Homo sapiens: one gene and its partners. The protein of the gene in region 1 purifies or fractionates together with the protein of each later gene. This does not show direct contact. Each region holds a gene or a part of one and is shown in the gene's direction. Other genes may lie near its edges. The genes, in order: OR1M1, OSBPL5, EDEM1, GUCY1B1, ANKLE2 and NBAS.

The links.
Region 2: the proteins of OR1M1 (region 1) and OSBPL5 purify together in Homo sapiens (affinity purification with mass spectrometry; one large-scale study listed by BioGRID and IntAct). This does not show direct contact.
Region 3: the proteins of OR1M1 (region 1) and EDEM1 purify together in Homo sapiens (affinity purification with mass spectrometry; one large-scale study listed by BioGRID and IntAct). This does not show direct contact.
Region 4: the proteins of OR1M1 (region 1) and GUCY1B1 purify together in Homo sapiens (affinity purification with mass spectrometry; one large-scale study listed by BioGRID and IntAct). This does not show direct contact.
Region 5: the proteins of OR1M1 (region 1) and ANKLE2 purify together in Homo sapiens (affinity purification with mass spectrometry; one large-scale study listed by BioGRID and IntAct). This does not show direct contact.
Region 6: the proteins of OR1M1 (region 1) and NBAS purify together in Homo sapiens (affinity purification with mass spectrometry; one large-scale study listed by BioGRID and IntAct). This does not show direct contact.

What each region holds. Positions count from the first base shown.
Region 1 is NC_000019.10:9,089,755-9,093,195, forward strand, and holds part of OR1M1 (olfactory receptor 1M1), read left to right. Parts: intron 1-3,441. UniProt on the Homo sapiens protein: Odorant receptor.
Region 2 is NC_000011.10:3,102,529-3,106,415, reverse strand, and holds part of OSBPL5 (oxysterol-binding protein-related protein 5), read left to right. Parts: intron 1-2,038; coding exon 2,039-2,223; intron 2,224-3,095; coding exon 3,096-3,177; intron 3,178-3,887. UniProt on the Homo sapiens protein: Lipid transporter involved in lipid countertransport between the endoplasmic reticulum and the plasma membrane: specifically exchanges phosphatidylserine with phosphatidylinositol 4-phosphate (PI4P), delivering phosphatidylserine to the plasma membrane in exchange for PI4P, which is degraded by the SAC1/SACM1L phosphatase in the endoplasmic reticulum.
Region 3 is NC_000003.12:5,190,416-5,194,302, forward strand, and holds part of EDEM1 (ER degradation-enhancing alpha-mannosidase-like protein 1), read left to right. Parts: exon of another isoform or gene 1-1,888; coding exon of another isoform or gene 1,889-1,917; exon of another isoform or gene 1,918-1,942; intron 1,943-2,523; exon of another isoform or gene 2,524-3,887. UniProt on the Homo sapiens protein: Extracts misfolded glycoproteins, but not glycoproteins undergoing productive folding, from the calnexin cycle.
Region 4 is NC_000004.12:155,803,808-155,808,485, forward strand, and holds the end of GUCY1B1 (guanylate cyclase soluble subunit beta-1), read left to right. Parts: intron 1-785; coding exon 786-940; intron 941-1,295; coding exon 1,296-1,422; intron 1,423-2,578; coding exon 2,579-2,602; 3' UTR 2,603-4,004; downstream 4,005-4,678. UniProt on the Homo sapiens protein: Mediates responses to nitric oxide (NO) by catalyzing the biosynthesis of the signaling molecule cGMP.
Region 5 is NC_000012.12:132,730,644-132,734,530, reverse strand, and holds part of ANKLE2 (ankyrin repeat and LEM domain-containing protein 2), read left to right. Parts: coding exon 1-146; intron 147-459; coding exon of another isoform or gene 460-515; exon of another isoform or gene 516-672; intron 673-3,887. UniProt on the Homo sapiens protein: Involved in mitotic nuclear envelope reassembly by promoting dephosphorylation of BAF/BANF1 during mitotic exit.
Region 6 is NC_000002.12:15,467,227-15,471,113, reverse strand, and holds part of NBAS (NBAS subunit of NRZ tethering complex), read left to right. Parts: intron 1-2,580; coding exon 2,581-2,732; intron 2,733-3,309; coding exon 3,310-3,450; intron 3,451-3,706; coding exon 3,707-3,785; intron 3,786-3,887. UniProt on the Homo sapiens protein: Involved in Golgi-to-endoplasmic reticulum (ER) retrograde transport; the function is proposed to depend on its association in the NRZ complex which is believed to play a role in SNARE assembly at the ER. Required for normal embryonic development.

The sequences.
Region 1 (3,441 bases):
GCTGCCTCAACAGTTTTCGGAGTGCTCTTACAATCCTCAGGGGTGCTGTGTGTGGGGTGTGATTCTCTATTAATCCAAGCTCCTCATAATCTGATAAATGCTGCCTGGAGTTCATCTCCCTCACTAAACTGTGAATTCATGAATCCATGCGTGCTTCATGAATTACAGAGATTAAGAGTACATGCTCTAGATTTAGAATGCTTGGGCTAATCCAGCCACCTGCTCTCAGTTAAACCCCATTTGATTGTATTAATCTTCTGTGCTTCCATTTCTTCCTGCATGAAATAGCACTAACATTATTCTGTTGTCGTGAGTAGCAAATTAGCAGAGACCTTCGATCAGTGCCTGGCAATACAGGATAACCATCACTGATTCATGCGTATATGGAACAATTATGTTTATGTCTTCTGTATCCCAGACAAGATGCTGGTCACAAAAATGAACAAAGACAAACAATTCCTGATTTCAAATGTCTTGAGGACAGGGTCTGTGTATTTTCATATATTTGTCCCCACAACTCAGGCCAGATCCTGTCACTATATATTGCAATTACCAATAATTTTTTACAAAATGAATGAACGAATGCGTGAGTGAATAAAAGTGACATCTGCAAGGTGTTCATTAGAAATCACAAAAATAAAAAATAAAAATATAAAAGTAACATGATCAGAACTGTAATGCAGGAAGATTAATTTAGTGACTTCAGGATTGTTTCTTTTTTTTGAGATGGAGTTTCGCTCTTGCTGCCCAGGCAGGAGTGCAGTGGCGCAATCGGGGCTCACTGCAACCTCTGCCTCAGCCTCCTGAGTAGCTGGGTTTACAGGCATGCGCCACCATGCCCGGCTAATTTTGTATTTTTAGTAGAGACGGGTTTTCTCCATGTTGGTCAGGCTAGACTTGAACTCCCGACCTCAGGTGATCCGCCTGCCTCGGCCTCCCAAAGTGCTAGGATGACAGGCATGAGCCACCGCGCCCGGCCGACTTCAGGATTGTTTCAAAGGAAGATAATTGGATGCATGAGGCTAGCTTAAGATTAGTGAACTTGGCAACTCAGAAGTAATAAGAGCCTTTCATTTAGGGTGTCTGGAAAGAGGAGATGACTGGAAATGACTATAAAAATAAAAAGTTCAGGACGGGCGCGGTGGCTCATGCCTGTAATCCCAGCACTTTGAGAGGCCAAGGCGGGCAGATCACGAGGTCAGGAGATCAAGACCATCCTGGCTAACATGGTGAAACCCCGTCTCTACTAAAAAGTACAAAAAATTAGCCAGGCGTGGTGGTGGGCGCCTGTAGTCCCAGCTACTCGGGAGTCTGAGGCAGGAGAATGGCGTGAACCTGGGAGGCGGAGCTTGCAGTGAGCCGAGATCGTGCCACCGCACTCCAGCCCGAGTGACAGAGCGAGACTCTGTCTCAAAAAAAACAAATAGATAAAATAAAAAATGGAAAGTTCAGGCTGGGAGCAATGGTTTACACCCATAATCCCGGCACTTTGGGAGGCCAAGTGTGGGCGGATCACCTGATGTCAGGCGTTCGAGACCAGCCTGGCCAACAAGGTTAAACCCCATTTCTTTTTTTTTTTTTAAATAGTATTTGCACCACAGGTGCTATTGTTTATTTTAATTCCAATTAATCAAGAATTGCCACACATGCTAAGAATAAAGCTGTTGGATGTGAACTAAGGAGCACGTTGCTATTTTATTTTAGTGTCCAGATACTCAGCTGGGTTAAACCCCATTTCTACTAAAAATACAAAAGTGAGCTGGGCATGGTGGCGTGCTCCTGTAATCCCAGCTACTTGGGAGGGTGAGGCAGGAGAATTGCTTGAGCCTGGGAAGCAGAGATTACAGTGAGCCAAGATCGTGCCACTGCACTCCAGCCTAGGCAACAGAGCAAGACCCCGTCTCAAAAGGAAAAAAAAAAACAAAGGAAGGAAGTTCGACTTGTAGAGGATGTAACACTCATTGATGGATTGCCTTTGACGGTGGAGGTAGAAAGGAGGAAGACTGAAAATTTCAAACACAGGTATCTGGAAGGATGGTGATTCCATTCATGGACATAGTGGCTCCGGGAGAAAATAGACTTTATTTTTTTATATGTTGAGTTTGCCATGTCAGGAAGAAAGAAAAGAGGGAAAGAATGCTTTGTATAACCCTATTATTATTGTTGTTGTTATTGAGATGTAGTCTTGCTCTGTCACCAGGCTGGAGTACCGTGGTGTGATCTTGGCTCACTGCAACCTCTGCTCCAAGGGTCAAGCAATCTTCCCACCTCAGCCTCCCGAGTACTTGGAACTATAGGTGTCCACCATCATGCCTGGCTTTTTTTTTTTTTTTTTTTTTTTTTTTGGTAGAGAAGGGGTTTTGCCATGTTGCTCAGGCTGCTCTTGAACACCTGCATTCAAGCTCTCTGCCCACCTCGCCCTCCCAAAGTGCTGTGATTACAGATGGGACCCATCGTGCCTGGCCCTAACATTTTTTAATTAATCAAAAAAGAAGAAGAGTTGCTATAAATACTTCATCCATGGTTTAAAGTGCAACCTATATATAAGCTGTTGTCAGGCCAAGTGCGGTAGCTCACACCTGCAATTGTAGCACTTTGGAAGGCCTAGATGGGAGGATCACTCAAGCTCAGGAATTCAAGACCAGCCTGGACAACATAGCAAGATCCTGTCTCCACCACACACAAGAAAAGATAAATAAGCCAGGCTTACTTATGGTGTGTGCCTGTAGACCCCGCTACTAGAGAGGCTGTGGCAGGAGGCTGGCTTGAGCCCAGGAGTTCAAGGTTGCAATGAACTATGATTGCACCACTGCACTCCCTCCTGGGTGACACAGCAAGACCCTGTCTCTAAAAAATAATATCTTTAGCCTGGCGTGGTGGCTCACGCCTGTAATCCCAGCACTTTGGGAGGCCGAGGTGGGCGGATCACGAGGTCAGGAGTTCGAGACCAGCCTGGCCAATATGGTGAAACCCCATTTCTACTAAAAGTACAAAAAATTAGCCGGACGTGGTGGTGGGCACCTGTAGTCCCAGCTACTCATGAGGCTGAGGCAGGAGAATCACTTGAACCCAGGAGGCAGAGGTTGCAGTGAGCAGAGATTGCACGACTGTACTCCAACCTGGGTGACAAAGCAAGACTCTGTCTCAAAAATATATATATATGTATATATACATAATATGTAATAATATATATAATATTTCTATTTTAGAGACAGGGTCTCTAAAGTTACAACACCGTACATGTGTGGAATATATTTACATATATTCTCTCTCTCTCTCTCTCTATATATATATATATACACACACACATATATATTCTATATATACACACACACACACACACACACACACACACATATATATATATACACATCTGGTCTCATAATTAGCCCAAATGAGAACTGGGATGTGATCGCATCTAACTTTCCAAAACCATCTCCC
Region 2 (3,887 bases), on another chromosome or scaffold:
TGCGCTCTGGGGTGGGGGCTGTCAGGAACGGGGGGCTCTGTGATCTGGGATCTTGTCATTCTCACCCGGGAGGCGAGACAAGAGCAAGGCCGTGGCTGTCACTGAGGGCAAGGGGCAGTCCCGGTTTCAGCAGGAAAGGGGAATTCGTTCCTTGCTGTTGTTTGGACAGCGTCGTGTTCGCATCTTGCTCTGCACAGGGACAGAGGGGGCTCCTCCGTGGTCCGTGAAATCCTTGTGTTCAGTGGAACACCATGGCCTCCCTGCGGGCTGCTGTTCCCACAGAGCTCAGGCTCCTGTGCGGGGATGGGAAGGTTAGGATGGGCCTATGGGGAGTGGACCGAGGGCCCTGGGGGCCTCAGGCTGAGAGTATTGGGGAAGCCACCGGCGGGTTAGGCAAGGGCCTCGGGACAGCCGAGGGGCGGGGGTGGACACTGGGCCACCCGTAGGGAAGACCCATTGTTAGGAGAAAGCTGAGGACACCCTGGACCCAGCTGTGATGGAGAAGGGAGAAGTGGGCAGACTCAGGGTATTTCGGAAGTTGGATTGGGTAGATCTCAGCCAGATGGTGATGAGCGACGCTGCTGTGAGCCAGGCAGAGCGGGCTGCTGCAGGTGCGAGCCTGGGGCTCCGGGCAGAGGGCATGGAGCGGGCAGCCAAGGGGCCCGGGCACCCAACCTTCAGAGGCCGAGCACAGATAAGGCTTCACAGAGGTGGGGCAGGGAGGTGGGAGGATCCAGGAGCCCAGGTGTCTCAGAGCCAGCTGGTCCGAGAGGTGGGGCAGGATGAGAAGCAGGGATGGCTGCTGGACCAGTGAGGAGTGGTGGGGACCTACGGCAAGACAGTCTCAGTAGAGAAGACGGCAGAAGCCTGGTGGAGAGGGTTAAGGAGGACGGGACGGGAGCACATGGACAGAGCAGGATTCCTGACAGCCGAAGCTACCCATGATTTCCAAGCCCCAAAGCTACAGCACTGGGCTCCCCATGACCCCTCATGGGGTCAGACATGGCTCCTGGGTGTCCACACACACTGTCCACTGGGCCAGTGCCACCAGGATCTGTCCGTGGCCATGCGTGCACAGAGAGGCGAAGCCATTTGCCTGAGGAGTCCCAGCAGCGGGGATGAGATCCTGATGCAGGACTCACAGGCCACACTCCATCTTGCCCGCTCCCTGGGGCAGCTGCCGTTGGGCTAAAAATGCAGAGAGCCCTGAGTTCAGATCTGACCTCTGCCGCATAGCAGCCGTGTGACCTTGGACAAGTCACTTGTCCCCTCTGTGGAGGGGGAGGACCAGGGTCCCCGTTCCCTGGGGCTGCGGTGAGGTGCAAGTCTGGAGTGAGTAAGGGGAGCCCCGCCACCCCAAGTCATGTATTCTGGAGCTGTGGTGAGGGTTAGATGTCTCAGAAAAGGAAGAGATGAGGGGGCCTTCGTGAGGGGCACACAGGCTTCGGAAGTGAGGGGTGAGTTCACATGCCCGTGTCGGTTTTGCAGGAGCAGGCTCACCTCCAAACTCACCCAGTTGTCCACATTCAATATCTGAAGGCTTCTGTATATCAATCAGACCTCAATAAAGTGGTTCAAAAACAGAAAAAGAAATGTTACAATAACCTTTTTTAAAAAATGGAAGAGCAGGCCAAATCCCTGCCTCCCCTGGCAGCTGTGAAGACAGGGTGGGCTGCAGTCTCTCTGTTCCCTGGGCCCAGGGTCCCACGATGCACAGACAGGTTTCAACAGCAGGTGTTGGGAGGCTGCACCCTGGACTTTGAGGAGGGCAGGGCATGGGGTCCCTGGGCAAGGAGCAGAGACAGGAGCGGGCCTGGACCTGGGCTGCGGGTGCTCCAGGGGTGGGGTGGAGACGCATTGGGAAGAGTTCACATCTGATGGGGCTGAGTCAGCCTCATGAGGCCATGGAGGCCAGGTCAGGGGTTTACACCCTAAGGGGTGGCAGGTACAGCCTCCTCCAGCCAGAGCTGCCACTGTCCCGCCACCCCTTCCTCCCGGCTCTTCCGGGCAGGGCCTGACTGCAGCCTGTCTGCTGCAGCTGGGCGAGGCGTCCCAGGTGGAGACAGTGTCAGAGGAGAACAAGAGTCTGATGTGGACCCTGCTGAAGCAGCTACGGCCAGGCATGGACCTGTCCCGCGTGGTGCTACCCACGTTCGTACTGGAGCCGCGCTCCTTCCTGAACAAGCTCTCCGACTACTACTACCACGCAGACCTGCTCTCCAGGTGCGCGCCATGCCGGGAGGGGCACCCCACACCTCGTCCTGCATCTGCATGAGACCCTGCAGCACCCCCAGCCCCTACCTGCCCTGTGGGGGCTTCCAGAGAATCCCATGGCTGATCTCAGCCCACTGTTTCTGCAGCTGTAGCCTCCCAGGGGGCCCTGTCTCCAAGATGGGCCTGGGAGGAGCCAGCCATCCGTGGTGAGAGGGGGGTCAGTCCCAAGCACTTGCCATGCACCCTGAGCCCTGCACCCTCGAGCTGGATGGGATGGGCTGCAGAGGCAGGAAGGGGGCTGCAGAGGCAGGAATGGGGCTACAGAGGCAGGAAGGGGGCTGCGCAGACTGGAAAGGGGCTGCAGAGGCTGGAAGGGGGCTGCGCAGGCAGGAAGAGGGCTGCAGAGGCAGGAAGGGACTGCAGAGGCTGGAAGGGGGCTGCAGAGCTGGAAGAGGGTTGCAGAGGCAGGAAGGGGCAGCAGAGCCTGGAAGGGGGTACGCAGGCTGGAAGGGGGCTGCAGAGACTGGAAGGGGGCAACAGAGGCAGGAAGGGGGCTGCAGGCTCAGGAGCCAGGCAGAGGGAGCAGGTGGGAACAAGAGCATGGGCAGGGAGGCTTCCTGGAGACAGGGGCACCCTGGCAGCCCAGGTCAGCAGTGTCCTCTCTGCCCCAGCGTGGGAGCAGCCCTGGCACTTTCTGATTAGAAGAACCCACTTCCCCAGAGAAAATTATCCTGCTTGGGGGTGACCAGAGCGCCTGGGCCAAGTGGCCTGTTTCCAGCTGAGTGGTTGGAGGTCGGGATGGTAGGAGGGAAGGGTCAGGGAAAGGGAGGGTGGCCCACGGCCCCCGGAGCTGGGGTCAGCGTTCTCCTGCCCCATGGCAGGGCTGCGGTGGAGGAGGATGCCTACAGCCGCATGAAGCTGGTGCTGCGGTGGTACCTGTCTGGCTTCTACAAGAAGCCCAAGGTGAGCCCCTGCCAGCCAGGGAGGGTGGGGCTCCGGCCCAGGAGTCTGTCTGCTCAGCCCTCGTCCCTTGGCACTTCCCTGAGTCCCCGGGCCACCCCCTACCCCACATGGCTTAGAAGGATCCTGGTCACCCCCACAGAGGGCCCAGGTCCTTGGTGATGGGGGACAGGGCCCCACTTCCCACAGTTGGGGCCCTGGATGGCTCAGGCCGGGTCCCCAAGGGTGGTCTCATCCCTCAAGGCCCCAAGCTGGACCCCTTCCCCACCCCCCAAGAAAACAGCCTCAGGCCGTATTACAGATGGTGCCAAAAGAAAGGAGCTTTAAACCTTAAACCTCAAGGTACCTTTGGGATCTGTGGTTTTCATAAATTTTTAGCCATGGAAACCCCTTTTAGAACCCCAAACCCAGGACTCCAGTGACAGCAGGGCTGCTCTCGTTGTAGTGAGCAAGAGGGCCCGCAGCTCCCCTGACCCCACCACAGAGCCCTGGGGTTCCATGGGAAGCAAGTTTGAAAACCACGACCGTGGTTCCACTTCTTTATTGTGCAGATGGGGAAACTGAGGCTCAGGTGAAAGGATGGCCTGAGTCGTACAGCAGGTTTGGGGTAGAGGCAGGACTTCTGACTGCCTGGTGCCTTCCATGGCTTTCAGCAGGCTGTGTGCAGGTTACACCCAAGGTCCAAGGAGAGTGTGACAAGGTCAGGGTCTCGT
Region 3 (3,887 bases), on another chromosome or scaffold:
GACATTTTAATGTTTTTCTTAATGAACCTTAAAAGCGCTTCTGGAGAACCTTAAGAATCCCTTCCCAGCAAAGTGAGGTGGTGGTTGATTTAACTTGCTGGTCTTTGTGGTATCATGTGTGCTGTTGGCCTTTATTTCAGGATGAAGGCTGCCGATGAGTGTTTTGGTTTGGTTATGCATTGGTTTGGTTATGCGTAAGTTAAGGTCAGGTTGCTTTGAGACAGATGTGTTATTGGAAAGAGGGTTTTAGAAGTATTGAGGAGGTGGGGATGGCATTAGGGAAGGGTTGTGCCCTGAGCTGGGTAGGCCCGTTGGTTGGTAAACCTTTGTTGTCTTTGAGGAGGCCAAAGAAGCCTTGCATGGACGCCTCACACTTGCCACTTACAAACAGTGGAAAACTTAATTTTTTGTACTCTCCTTCCTTTAACTCCTCTCAGGCTTTGCTTTTTTTTAAATATTTTTTAAAAAAATTTATTTTTAATTTTTGAGGATACACAGTAGGTGTATATATTTATAGGGTACATGAGATATTTTGGCACAGGCATGCAATTTGTAATAATCACATCATGGAAAATTGGGTATCCAACCCCTCAAGCATTTTTCTTTTGTGTTACAAACAATCCAATTATACTTTTAGTTATTTTAAAATGTACAGTTAAATTATTATTGACTGTAGTCCTCCTGTTATGCTATCGAATACTAGGCCTTGAGGAAAGTTTAAAACCAGAGTATTGTCATGCTGGCTTTGAAACAGGAGGGTACTTCACATCCCCAAACTAAATAATCTGTAATAAAAATTTTTCATATTTTTTGTTTGTTTGTTTAATTGACAGGGTATTGTTCTGTCACCCAGGCTGGAGTGCAGTGGCATAATCATTGCTCACTGCAGCCTTGAACTCCTGGGCTCAAGCAGTCCTCCTGCCTCAGCCTCCCGAATAGCTGGGACTAGAGGTGTGCCCCACCATGCTCGGCTAATTTTTTTTTTTTTTAATTTTTCTGTAGAAGTGGGGTCTTACTTTGTTGCCCAGGATGGTCTCAAACCCCTGGCCTCAAGCAGTCTTCCCGCCTTGGCCTCCCAAAGTGCTGAGATTATAGGTGTGAGCCACCAAGCCCAGCCAAAAATCTTTCAGATTTTAAAAAATCAAATGTATTCTAATGACTCATTTAACAAGAGTGAATTTGCCATTAGAGTATTATATAAAAAGTACACATAGAAAATTTCGGTGCTAAACACTCTTACCGTTTCTCTGTAGTCATATATGCTCCAAACTTATCTTGCCTCAAGTACATGTGACTTGTTCTTGGGGAGGTATCAGGTAAGGAGTTAACATGAAGTGAATAAAACCTGAACACTCTAAAAAGAGCAGATCTGTCTAAGATAACTATGCAAAGTCAGTTCTCACATCCTTAATTTGGGTTGGAGGATCCAAATTTAAAGTTTCTTTGAGTAAATGTGGATATTATATTTTTGTAATCCTGTGAATGGTTAACTGTAGTTCTGGCTTTTGGGCATGTGACCATTCTCAATTTCTTCTCAACTGTATTGCTATTAAAACAACAAAACAAATCTCAAATTAAGCCAAACAAATATTGGCCCCTCAAATGCTTAGGTACTACTAGCTCAAGATGGCCTCCTCTGCATTCCTCTTTCTTTGGAAAGTCCTGCCCTCTTTCAGAGTCAGGCTCCTCTTGTTTCCGTGACACCATCTAACTGTTTGAAGATGATTTTCCTTTATTTGCTCAGTTCTTCTTTTGATTCCTTTCCTTTGAGCTGCGATTCTACATTTTAACCTTATTTGAGGATTGAGTACTGTTGTGTATTCACCTGCATTTCCCTTTGTCTTGTCTCTCCAGATTATCAATCCCTTGAACGCAGGGACTGTTTCTTATGTTATCTCTGTGCCTACACCACACCAGGTAGATTTCTGAACAGCTGTTACAGGTTAAGTATACATGGGAATTTAAATTTAAAAACACATATGTTTGATTTTGTTAGCTACATAATCAAAAATTTTCTATCAAAGGCCATGGTTTTCTCCATCTTTTCTGTTTTGAGGTGAACTTTAAAAATTTACAGTGGGGTGAATGCCATGAACATTTGTACCTGGTGAAGTAAGTGGAGCGTTTAGTTGTGCGGTTCAGCCAGCTGGTTACAGGGAAAGGTATTGAGTTCTTGCTGGATGAACTTAAAGGTATCAGGTTAGGCTGGAGATTGACAAGAATATCTACAAAGAACAAATCCAGAGTCTGAGCTGCATAGTGGGCTGGCATAAATGGAGTCATAATAATTTCATGCTGTTAGGCCAGTAGAGTTTTATGGTGTTTTTTTTTCTTCCTTCATCCTCACTCCCACTTCCCCCTTATTTTGGCACCTTTTGAAAGAGGATGTAGCAATTATTTGGTAAGAAAGAATTAAAAGTGTTCTAATGAGTAAATACCCCAGATCTTAGAGAGGATTTGTCTGACTAGAGTGGAGAGAAGAAACCCCACAGTTACTGCAAGTAATTTTTTTTTTTTTTTTTACTGTGGCAGCTCATTAATTTTTAGTGACTGGGCATTGTAAAAAATATTTTAAAACTGGGTCTATTTTAGTTATAGATTACAAGGCAAAGCACAATAAAACATAGAAAGGAGTTCAGTGCTCACAGTGAGTACCTTCCTTCCATGGGCCTGTGCAGGTGGATAGAATGACACATGCCGCAGATCTGGGTGTGACTCAGGAGAGGGGAGTTACATGTGGTTCTCCTGATTACCATCTAGCTTGGATGCTACATGATGAGGGAGCTGTTTTCTGATGAGGTGGGCTGTTGAAGCCCACTCTGTTTCTAAGCGGCAGAGCAACAGAGTGAAATATTTACACAGAGCAGAACATTCTTGAGTTGGCAGAATTGGGCGTAAGGATCTCCCTGTCTCCTTTGAGCCCCTCCTGCAACCCTTGCACTTTTTGTACCTTTTTTGGCTGTCACTTGCGCTTGAGAGGCATATTTGAATCCATAGCTCTTGCTTTGAGGGGACCTTTTGCTATTGTATAAGTTTATTTCCAGAAAATCAACAAATAGAAAAAACAGGTACAATTTTCCAGCCAAGCAGTTTTCTGACTTCCCAGCTTATAGGAAATGAGCTAGCCCTAGTTCCTAGACTATAGCCCCCATATATATCTCGTTTCAAAAAAACAGTATCTAAAATTTTTTTTTTTTTTGAGACAGAGTTTCGCTCTTGTTGCCCAGGCTGGAGTGCAATGGCATGATCTCGGCTCACCGCAACCTCCGCCTCCTGAGTTCAAGTAATTCTTCTGCCTCAGCCTCCCTAGTAGCTGGGATTACAGGCGCCTGCCACCACGCCCAGCTAATTTTTGTATTTTTAGTAGAGACAGGGTCTTGCCATGTTGGCCAGGCTGGTCTTGAACTCCTGACCTTGGATGATCCACCCACCTCGGCCTCCCAAAGTGCTGGGATTACAGGCGTGAGCCACCGCACCCAGCCTAAAATTTTACTATAAATTCTTTGCTTTAGATTAGATGGTGTAACAGCATAAAACAAGGCAACTGGAGGGTTCAAATAAAATGAGACATTGGAGCTGTTATGCCTCTTTCACATAAGCCCCATTTTCCCCAGCTGAGGCACAGGCCTTTCAGAGACCACAGCAAGCCATCACAACACGAGAGGTGCTGTGCACCAGAAGCTTCTCTGACTGGAAGGTGAGATAAGGACCCATTAGGGTGATCCGAGGAGCAGATGAAGTGCTTTGGGATATGATGGAAGACTGCAGATATCAATGCATCTTGCTGGAAATAAAACTGGAGCTTTTTTGCTTTGGTTGCTAATAAAATCTTTAAACAGTTGTCTTATGTCTTCTCTTACTATCATTTTTTCCAAGCTTCTGCACTT
Region 4 (4,678 bases), on another chromosome or scaffold:
TTTTGGACAATTGATTCATATCGTTGTCCGGAAAATCATTAACGTGTATAAAGAAGGGCATCTTGACAACAAAGACTATAGCATTTCATCCAGCCCACTGTACTACATTCTTTCATAGACATGGAGATTTATCTACCTGTTTGAAATTATCTAGTCCGTTTCATGTACTGAAAGTCATGGGGATGAGAAAAAAACCTCTTGTACCTTCTAGTTTATTTTTTAAAACCTCTTTCATGTCTCATGTAAGTTACTAGATTCACATCTTTGAAATCTTCAGACTTCAAATGTTTCTCTTGAGATAGGATATTTCCCTGGGGAGATAGAGATTTCATGGAGGGCTTTTGAAGTTGTCCATAATATGCTTGAAATTCTTATAGACATCTCTTACGATGTTATATGATGACTCTACATTATTCTGTAATATAAAGTAAGCAAAAATTCATGTGTTACAGGAACAGAAAACCAAACACCACATGTTCTCACTCATAAGTTGGAGCTGAACAATGAGAACACATGGACACAAGGAGGGGAACATCACACACCGGGACCTGTTGGGAGTTTGGGGGCAAGGGGAGGGAGAGCATTAGGACAAATACCTAATACGTGCGGGGCTTAAAACCTAGATAATGGGTTGATAGGTGCAGCAAACCACCATGGCACATATATACCTATGTAACAAACCTGCACCTTCTGCACCTGTATGCCAGAACTTAAAGTAAAATAAAAAAAAAAAAATTCATGTGTTAGTGATCAAAATGATTGAAGCAAAGCTTTCTTTTTTGCAGATAACAATAGGGATACACACTGGAGAGGTAGTTACAGGTGTCATAGGACAGCGGATGCCTCGATACTGTCTTTTTGGGAATACTGTCAACCTCACAAGCCGAACAGAAACCACAGGAGAAAAGGGAAAAATAAATGTGTCTGAATATACATACAGGTGAGAGAAAATGTCTTGGTATTTACTGATTTGCAAAGAAAATGTGTCTTTGCATGTGGTTTAATTCTCTGAGAGATTTTGTTGCTTTAACAGAGTTATCACCTTCACTCTTCCCCACTGCTTGTAGAGTTGTTTACTTTTTATTTGAGAAGATTGTGTCATTATTTCCATTTTATATGATTTCACATCATCTTAGGAAATCCTGATATGATCATTGTTTCTAAAGCTTTGAGTTACCTTTCAGTACAACTTCAGCATTTGTTCTTGCCATCTTGGTTTATAACATGATACATGTCACCTTCTCTATAAAACTTGTGTATACTTCTCTCTCTACTCCCCTTCCCTTGTCTTTTAGATGTCTTATGTCTCCAGAAAATTCAGATCCACAATTCCACTTGGAGCACAGAGGCCCAGTGTCCATGAAGGGCAAAAAAGAACCAATGCAAGTTTGGTTTCTATCCAGAAAAAATACAGGAACAGAGGTATGACTAATCAAAGTGTAATTTGCGTACTTAAGACAGAGTATAAGTATGGAAAACTAAAGCAAAATCACTGAAAATGTATTTCATTTGAAAAGAATTCTTGCTAACAGAAATTAACTTCTAAGTAAAGCAGTGGAAATAATTGAACATTAATGAGCCAATTACAATCATAAGTACTTTTTAGGGGATACTTTAGTGATTTTTGTCCTCTAATGAAATGAAAACCAACAGACTGGATTGAGAAGGCTGCTTTTTTTCTTGCTGTTGTGGTTGTTTTGCTCTTCCTCTGTAGTCTGGCTCAAAGGTAAGTGGGCTGTGAGGGGCTCCCCTGACCCCTTTCCTCAGCTCTCTAAGTTGGCTCTGAGATCACCACAGATAAGGGCTGTGGTTCATGGGAGGTTTCTTAACCATGAAGCTTAAGATCCTTTTAAGGGGCAGGCTATCTTTCTATGGAGTGATTGGGGAATTTTGGAAATCCTAGTCCCTCATGTGTTTCTCCTAGATAGATGAGTGATTTTTAACTTGCTAGAATCTGATTAATTCCTTAGGGAAGATTTAAGTTCTTTCTACTACTATGGTTATACTCCAGGCAGAGCCCATGTGCTAGAATGGACTTCAGAACAGTGGCACATCCAAAGTGGAATCACACCTCTCATAGAGGCCTTGCACACACTAAGATCATGGCTAGCCTCTTCCTAGCCTTTTGTAAGGAGTGGCATCAGAAGCAAGTTTGATACTTTGTTACCCTGTTGATGTGTTGTTTCCTCATGGGGGATAAGACTGCATGCTCATATTTCTCTTTTAGTGTGTATAAACTCTCTAAAGATGCTTTTAGGGCATAACAACTTCTAAAGGGAATAGAATGCCAGGGTTTGAAATATTTATCTTCTTTCACCTGGTTTAACATTAAATCATTTTCCTATGAGGTGGACATGCTTATTGATGTTCTTCTGATAAACTAAGCCGTAATTACCTCAAACATTGGTCATCTTAGTCGTGCGGTCCTGTTTTTCCCAGAATTATGGTGGGAATGATTTACAGAAACTGTAGATGTGAACGTGGATCACACTCTCATAAAGAGAAAAATATATTTAATTGATATTATAAACCTCACTATCACTGTAAATCAATCCCTCTTTTCTTCTGCCTATTTAAGGAAACAAAGCAGGATGATGACTGAATCTTGGATTATGGGGTGAAGAGGAGTACAGACTAGGTTCCAGTTTTCTCCTAACACGTGCCAAGCCCAGGAGCAGTTCTTCCCTATGGATACAGATTTTCTTTTGTCCTTGTCCATTACCCCAAGACTTTCTTCTAGATATATCTCTCACTATCCGTTATTCAACCTTAGCTCTGCTTTCTATTACTTTTTAGGCTTTAGTATATTATCTAAAGTTTGGCTTTTGATGTGGATGATGTGAGCTTCATGTGTCTTAAAATCTACTACAAGCATTACCTAACATGGTGATCTGCAAGTAGTAGGCACCCAATAAATATTTGTTGAATTTAGTTAAATGAAACTGAACAGTGTTTGGCCATGTGTATATTTATATCATGTTTACCAAATCTGTTTAGTGTTCCACATATATGTATATGTATATTTTAATGACTATAATGTAATAAAGTTTATATCATGTTGGTGTATATCATTATAGAAATCATTTTCTAAAGGAGTGAATTCTAAGTTTTAGGGGAAAAAATGCAATTTATTTTCAGACTCCCAAAGTAAGAATTAACATATCATGCTAAGAAAATAGTGACTATTTTGAAGTATGCTACTTCCCTTTCAGAAATATAGAATACACGTTTCTGTTATTAAAGTATTTGATTACTAATTCAAATCATATGGCAATTATAATTCTTCTAAAATGCTATCATTTGTAACTGTATCCCCTGTATTAAATCTCATTAACCACAGGCAGCTGTTACAGAAAGCTGCATTGTTTCACATTGAGCTGTTACATTAGTTCAGGCTAAATGTTGGGAGCTCCAACCACATCCAAGAATAAATCTGGAAACACACTGCTGGGATACTGCTGTTAGAGCCCTTCTTGGCCTTGTATTCCCAGAAATGAGCTCCCTTTCCTTAGCTTAGAAGAATGTGATTATATCCAGGACATCATGTTCAGAAAACTTAGTTTACTTTCAGCATAGAATGCATTACTGTTGGAATAATTGGCCTCTAGCTCTTAAATGTCTCTGATAACTTATTAATATCTATCTTTATAAAATAGAGTGCAACTACTTTTGTGTAAAAATGTTTGCCTTTAAATTTAGTATTTCATATCAGCACATCGATATATGTATAAATGTTCCATGTTAATGTGTAAAAGAGTCTGTAATAAATTATTTTTTTCACGTGTCTCTATACAGTTTTTATTTCAATAAAAATATTAACATTATTTTTCATTTTATTAATGCCATTATTTTGTAAATACATTTTACAATTTTGCCTATTTGCTACCATTATAAATTTTCACTGACTCCTCATAGACAGCATATTCTTAAATGCTATATTTCTTTTTAATACCAACAGAGTGACAGGAAATAAAGACTGGGCATGGAAAGGGGAAACAGTTAAATATTGAATGTCATCAGCTTATTTAAAGAGCTCTGAATCATTTAGGGATGATAGACATGTATACAAGTAATGAAAATATGCGATATTCATAATGAAGAAATATATTCAAATGCAGAAATAATACTTAGAGAAAGAGTAACTTGAAAGAAAAGAGGTGAAGTGGGGATAGTTGTTATGCTTATTTTGGGGGGAGAGTTAGGAATACTCAGAAACTACATTGACACTGTCATCTTCCCAGAATCCTGCATATATTTATTTAGCATCTACTTTGGGTAGGTACTGCTCAAGATATTTGAGAAATGTCATTGAACAAAACATCTCTGCCTTTGAATACCTCATATTCCAATTTTTACATCTTGCATGTTTTTAAATCTCTACTTTATTCCGCCAACACTCTTCGAAGTCCAGGCACTCATCATGTGTAACTTGAACAATTGCAAGATCTTCCCTATAAATCTGTCTATTTCCTACCTTTGCCACCTCCATTCCACACTCTCAAATTGCTGCCAGAGTGGTCTTTTACAAATCCAAATTGCTCTCCTGCGTACAATCACTTAAATGCTACTCATTGTCTGTACACCTTAGCAAAGCATGTAAACATTGTCACCTTAACCAGCCTTATCTGCTAGTTGCTACCTTTGTAATTCTATGCTCTGCTCTGTCTGAATACCCTCT
Region 5 (3,887 bases), on another chromosome or scaffold:
ATTTCTGGGCTGTTTTGTTGATCTGTCTTCCCAGGAAGGCCTGCAAAGACTAGAAGAATATCTCACACAGCAGGAAATAGGCAAAAAGGCTCAACAAGAAACAGGAGAACGGGAAGCCTCCTGCCGAGATAAAGCCACCACGTCTGGTAAGCATGTGCAGGCGTGGCTGTGGCAGCTGGGAGGGGCCCCCCATGGCCGGGGTCTGACGGGATGCGCACATCTGTTTCTCGTCTCTTGGTGTTTTTAACGTAAAGGTCTGGTACTTTCCCTTAGGTTAGTATTTTTTGAGACGGAACCTCTCTTTGTTACCCAAGCTGGAGTGCAGTGGCGCAATCTTGGCTCACTGCAACCTCCACCTCCTGGGTTCAAGCGATTCTTCTGCCTCAGCCTCCTGAGTAGCTGGGACTACAGGCGCCCGCCACCACGCCTGGCTAATTTTCGTATTTTTTTTTTTTTTAGTGGAGATGCGGTTTCACCGTATTGACCAGGCTGGTCTCGAACTCCTGACCTCGTGATCCACTAGAGTGCTGGGAAGGTTAATGTTAAATGGGTTGTGTGTCGGGGAGGGTACATGAAAAATAATGGCATCGCTTTGAGCAGTATTGCTGTTTCTGCTTGTGTTTGCATTATCCAAAATCTAATATAGTTTCATTCTGTGCCGTTTTCTCAAAACTCATAATAGCTGAACTCCATTGGCTGAGCCTGATATTTTAGATTTGGTATATTTTCAGGAAAAAGACGAGTGCACATCAGAATACTGGTGTATATCAGACACCAGGGCACGAAGCGCCTTGCACGGTGCGTATCAGACACCAGGACGCAGAGCGCTTCACACAGTGCATATCAGACACCAGGACGCAGAGCGCTTCACACAGTGTATTTCAGACACCAGGACGCAGAGAGCTTCACACGGTGCATTTCAGACACCAGGATGCAGAGTGCTTCACACGGTGCATTTCAGACACCAGGATGCAGAGCGCTTCACACGGTGCATATCAGGCACCAGCACGCAGAGAGCTTCACACGGTGCATATCAGACACCAGGACGCGCAGTGCTTCACACGGGGTATATCAGACACCAGCACGCAGAGAGCTTCACACGGTGCATATCAGACACCAGGACGCAGAGAGCTTCACACGGTGCCTGTCAGACACCAGGACGCAGAGCGCTTCACACGGTGCATATCAGACACCAGGACGCAGAGAGCTTCACACGGTGCACGTCAGACACCAGGACGCAGAGAGCTTCACACGGTGCATATCAGACACCAGGACGCGCAGTGCTTCACACGGTGCATATCAGACACCAGGACGCAGAGAGCTTCACACGGTGCATATCAGACACCAGCACGCAGAGAGCTTCACACGGTGCATATCAGACACCAGGACGCGCAGTGCTTCACACGGTGCATATCAGACACCAGGACGCAGAGAGCTTCACACGGTGCGTATCAGACACCAGCATGCAGAGCGCTTCACGGTGCATATCAGACACCAGGACGCAGAGCGCTTCACACAGTGCATATCAGACACCAGGACGCAGAGCGCTTCACACAGTGTATTTCAGACACCAGGACGCAGAGAGCTTCACACGGTGCATATCAGACACCAGGATGCAGAGCGCTTCACACGGTGCATTTCAGACACCAGGATGCAGAGCGCTTCACACGGTGCATATCAGACACCAGCACGCAGAGGGCTTCACATGGTGCACGTCAGACACCAGGACGCAGAGAGCTTCACACGGTGCATATCAGACACCAGGACGCGCAGTGCTTCACATGGTGCATATCAGACACCAGGACGCAGAGAGCTTCACACGGTGCATATCAGACACCAGGACGCAGAGAGCTTCACACGGTGCGTATCAGACACCAGCACGCAGAGCGCTTCACGGTGCGTATCAGACACCAGGACGCAGAGAGCTTCACACGGTGCGTATCAGACGCCAGGACGCGCAGTGCTTCACACGGTGCATATCAGACACCAGCATGCAGAGAGCTTCACACGGTGCGTATCAGACACCAGCACTCAGAGAGCTTCACACGGTGCATGTCAGACACCAGCACGCAGAGAGCTTCACACGGTGCATATCAGACACCAGGACGCAGAGAGCTTCACACGGTGCGTATCAGACACCAGCACGCAGAGCGCTTCACAGTGCGTATCAGACACCAGGACGCAGAGAGCTTCACACGGTGCGTATCAGACACCAGGACGCAGAGAGCTTCACACGGTGCGTATCAGACACCAGGATGCAGAGCGCTTCACACGGTGCGTATCAGACACCAGGATGCAGAGCACTTCACACGGTGCGTATCAGACACCAGGACGCAGAGCGCTTCACACGGTGCGTATCAGACACCAGGATGCAGAGCGCTTCACACGGTGTATATCAGACACCAGGACGCAGAGCGCTTCACATGGTGTATATCAGACACCAGGACGCAAACGCAAAGCGCTTCACACGGTGCACATCAGACACCAGCATGCAGAGAGCTTCACACGGTGCATATCAGACACCAGGACGCAGAGCGCTTCACACGGTGCATATGAGACACCAGGACGCAGAGCGCTTCACACGGTGTATATCAGACACCAGGACGCACACGCAAAGCACTTCACACGGTGCATATCAGACACCACGATGCAAAGTGCTTCCAAAGCACAGATGCACTGAATGGAAAGAGCATGATGGAAGAGGTTAATCTACAAAATCTAAAAGTGATTCATAAAAACATCAACGATGGCCGGGCACGGGAGCTCAGGCCTGCAATCCCAGCGGCCGGGCGTGGCGGCTCACACTATAATCCCAGCACTTAGGGAGGCCAACGTGGGTGGATTGCTGAAACCCAGGAGTTCGAAGGCAGCTTGAGCAACATAGTGAGACTCTGTCTCTATTTATTTTTTTAAAAAAACAGAAATTTGCTAATAACTAGAGATTCGAATCTGCTAAAATACAAATTAAAGCAGATATACAGTTTAAACTGTGTGTGTGTGTGTGTGAGTGTGTGTCTGTGTGAGTTTGTGTGTGTAAGGTCATAATAGAACCATTAGCCCGCAAGACACTTCATTTATAAAACAAACTCCCTGGAATGATAGAAAATGAAAATGATTGACATACATTAAACTAAGAAGCAGTGAATCTTCAACAGTCACGACCTGTGACTCTGAACCACAGAACTAGAGCGACGTCAGTGCCGTCGTTATACAGGAATCATTGAAGTCTGACCTTGCTGTGTTGTAGCTGATGGTGGCACAGAACTCACTTCTGTAAAGCGGCCTCATTTACAGTGTTGTCTTGTGACTATGTACATTTTAATTAGTAAATATTAAATAAAGTTGAGGCATTTCCTAAGTAGCAGGAGCCACAGCTCAAGTGTTCTGGATCCTCCTGTGGCCGCGGCCACCATCGTGAACACCAAACGGGACATTTCTGTTGCCTGTCGCACAGTGCTGCGCCCGGGAGCTCTTCTGTGTTATCTTCACACCTAAAGCGCAGCAGGGTTACTTCATGGAGTTGTTCTGGACGATCTTCGGGATCCTCTGGGGCACTGTGACACTCGGAGCCCCTGGGGTCGCAGCAGATCGGAGCTGGAGGGTGGCTGGGGGTGCAGGGCAGTCATCTCGCCCATCACCTGGGCTGCCCTTGGCGTTTTCATGTCCCTGCCTTTGAAAGAAAAGTCAGCCTGGCAGCTTTATTTCCCTCCTCGTCTGAAATAGGGTCTCACTCTGTGGCACAGGATGGAAAGCAATGGTGCAGTCACAGCCCACTGCAGCCTCCCCCTCCTGGGCTCAAGCGATCCTCCCACTTGAGCCTCCCAAATAGCTGAGACTACAGGTGCGTGCCACCATGTCAGCTAATTTTTCTATAGAGAACGGGGTTT
Region 6 (3,887 bases), on another chromosome or scaffold:
GCAAGTACTTTTTTGGGGAGGGGAATATTTCGTTTAGTTAAATAGACAGTTAAGAGCAAGAGCACTATGCTAGGGACTGTGAAGGGGTACAGGACAGGCATAAATGTGGCTTTTGCTCATAGGGAGCTTATGATTTTTTTTGTTTTGTTTTGAGATGGAGTTTTGCTTTTTTTTGCCCAGGCTGGATTGCAATGGTGCGATCTCGGCTCACTGCAGCTTCTGCCTCCCTGGTTCAAGTGATTCTCCCGCCTCAGCCTCCCAAGTAGCTTGGGACTACAGGCACACAACACCACACCTGGCTAATTTTTGTATTTTTAGTAGAGACGGGGGTTCACCATATTAAAAATAACTGGCCGTATAAGTAGATTTCAGATACAACTCTAGAAACCCAGTGAAGATAGTGATTATTATAGATCTGGTAGAGATGGAAGATTTTATATAGTGAAGATGTTTGGAGCAGGGATTTGGAAGGATTTAAATTAGGCCTTCTTGAATGAGAAGGGAGGAAGACATTCTTAACAGGACAGATGGTATGAACAAATTAAAAGACACTGAGCATGATTTATGAGGCCAGTGACTAAATCTGTTTTATTCACTGCTATATTTCCATGTCTAGTTCAGTGGCTGGTGTGCAGTAGGTGCCCAGTAAACATTTTATGGATAAATGAGCTCTGTACATCAACCAGTTTGCTGGCACTGATATTTGACAATAGTGAACACTGGGAAACATGATTGAAAAGATATATTGATTTGAGTTCAGGAGGATGTGGAAAGCTTCTGATGACTTAGGCATTTATCTACTGTTGTGGATTTCTGACTGTGGAAGCAGAGGAAGATGGTGTAGAGAGAATTGGAGTGGAAGGAAGGTAGGAAACCTTGCTTGGGGCAGGGGACTCCTACAGTGTGCTAGATGTTTTGTGTTGATGATTTAGACTGGTATGGAGGCCGCAGCTGTGGAAAAGGGAAAGTGAATTAAGAGACATTTGAAGAAAGAACTGATGTGAGGCAATATATAAAGGATCCTAGGGAATGAGTCAAATCTTAATTAAAATTTATAACCATAATAGCTCTTTCTAGGAAGAGGGCAAGTCAGGGATTTTTTTTTTATTTTTTATTTTTTAATTATTATTTTACTTTAAGTTCTAGGGTACATGTGCACAACGTGCAGGTTTGTTACATATGTATACATGTGCCATGGTGGTGTGCTGCACCCATTAACTCGTCATTTACATTAGGCATATCTCCTAATGCTATCCCTCCCCCCTCCCCCCACCCCCCAGCAGGCCCCGGTGTGTGATGTTCCCCACCCTGTGTCCATGTGTTCTCATTGTTCAATTCCCACCTATGAGTGAGAACATGCGGTGTTTGGTTTTCTGTCCTTGTGATAGTTTGCTCAGAATGATGGTTTCCAGCTTCATCTATGTCCCTATACAGGATGTGAACTCATCCTTTTTTATGGCTGCATAGTATTCCATGGTGTATATATGCCACATTTTCTTAATCCAGTCTATCATTGATGGACATTTGGGTTGGTTCCAAGTCTTTGCTATTGTGAGTAGTGTCGCTATAAACATACGTGTGCATATGTCTTTATAGTAGGAAGATTTGTAATCCTTTGGGTATATGCCCAGTAGTGGGATTGCTGGGTCAAATGGTATTTCTAGTTCTAGATCCTTGAGGAATCGCCACACTGTCTTCCACAATAACAAAGACACAACATACCAGAATCTCTGGGACACATTTAAAGCAGTGTGTAGAGGGAAATTTATAGCACTAAGTGCCCACAAGAGAAAGCAGGAGAGATCTAAAATTGACACCCTAACATCACAATTTACAGAACTAGAGAAATAAGAGCAAACACATTCAAAAGCTAGCAGAAGGCAAGAAATAACTAAGATCAGAGCAGAACTGAAGGAGATAGAGGCACAAAAAAACCTTCAAAAAATCAATGAATCCAGGAGCTGGTTTTTTGAAAAGATCAACAAAATTGATAGACCACTAGCAAGACTAATAAAGTCAGAGATTTTGAATGGAGTTGGAGGAAATAGTTGGGAGGGAGGAATAGGACTTTGATCTTTCCAAAAAACAGCATATCATGACTTTTTATGATCAAGTTATTCACACCCTGGGATATATCTCATGGTCAAATAAATACAGAAATTTGATGGGCTCATTTGTTTTGTTTAAAAGTTAAACATGCTTATTAATTATGACAGAATATATCTTGCCTTTCTGCCTTATTGTCTGCTCTATTATACAGCCACGGTGCAAACCAAAGGCATTTATAAAAGTTAGGAGGAAACATTTTATATTTCCAAAAATGAGTCCTGAGCTTTCTGTTTCTGCGTAGCTCATTAGAGGAAGAAAGCAAGCAGGTCAACTCACACTCCCCGCATCCAGTTGTAGTCACCATTAGGCAACTGGCTGCTTTTCTCTTGAGTTCCTCTAGCAGCTCCCTATGGCCAAGGTCCTAAATAGCTGTAATACATCAGGTATAGCTTTACAATTCTGAAGGCAGTTGTAATGTGTTGTAAGATGTCATGGATTCTGTAATTCCTCTGTTTCTTCCTTTATATGCAGAGTAAAATAAAGAAGCGATCCTGGGTTCTCCATGAGTGTTTGGAAAGAGTTCCTGAAAATGTGGATGCTGCAAAAGAACTGCTTCAGTATGGATTAAAAGGCACAGACCTGGAGGCTCTTTTAGCAATAGGGAAAGGAGCAGATGATGGCAGGTTGGTTACAGAAAGAATTGGATTCAAAGTAAAGGTGACTTTGTGAAAACTTTTGTACTGAGACATTGGACTGGGTAAACTTTTCTTTATTTAAGTTATTCTGTACTGAAGCAGTTGCTTTTGATCAATACTGTCTTACCTGAAGTCATTGCTCATCAGGCATTTGGAACTTTTTAAAAAATATAAATATGAGAGTATATCTGAGAAGTAAATAATTAAAATGAGACTGACACTACCATTTGAAGACCTTAAGTAGAAGTGATTCAAATAGCAAACTCTGTGGACATTTTCAGCATAGGCTGCTTTACATTGAGTGAATGTAACCCCACATCTCTTCCTAAATAGTTTTCATTTTCTTGATTTTTAGATTTCTATTTGTAATAATTACTGATGACTTTTTGCCCATCTGTGGATATAATGAATGATCACTTTGTTTACAATGGCAAAAGTTTTTTTCAAATACTTTCTTCTGTTTTTGTGGAAATCAATAATGAAATCAGTCAAAATAGGAGAAAGCTTTTCACAACACGAAGTTTTTAAAAATGATGAAAATATATTTGTTCTTTTATACTTGCAGATTTACATTACCTGGTGAAATAGACATTGACAGTATCTCCTATGAAGAGCTTTCACCACCTGATGAAGAGCCTGCCAAGAATAAAAAGGAAAAGGAGCTCAAGAAGAGACAAGAACTACTGAAATTAGTGAACTTTTCCAAGTAAATGAGTTGTTACTGTTCATTTGATAGTTTCTTTAAAATAACTAATCATTTCAGTGTGTTCCTTACTAGTAATAATTAGTCCAAATTATTTTAGCAACTTAGATCAAATGTACTTACTATTATCTTACCCTTGTGCTTTTCTGAACTGTTTCATGAGTTTTGGGCTCAACGGAATATTAATCATTTTCATTATAACTCCTAGAGAAATAATTCTGTGTAAATATAAGTGGCCTAACATAGTTATTCAAAACAGGTTGACACTGGAACAAAAGGAACTTTGCCGTTGTAGACGGAAGTTATTAACCTACTTAGATCGACTTGCAACATATGAGGTAATGAATAATTTTTGTCAAACCAATTATGTTCATTTGATCTGTCATTATAAATGCTATGGCTGCCCTAATATCGGATATTCTTGGTCTTTAGAACTATTT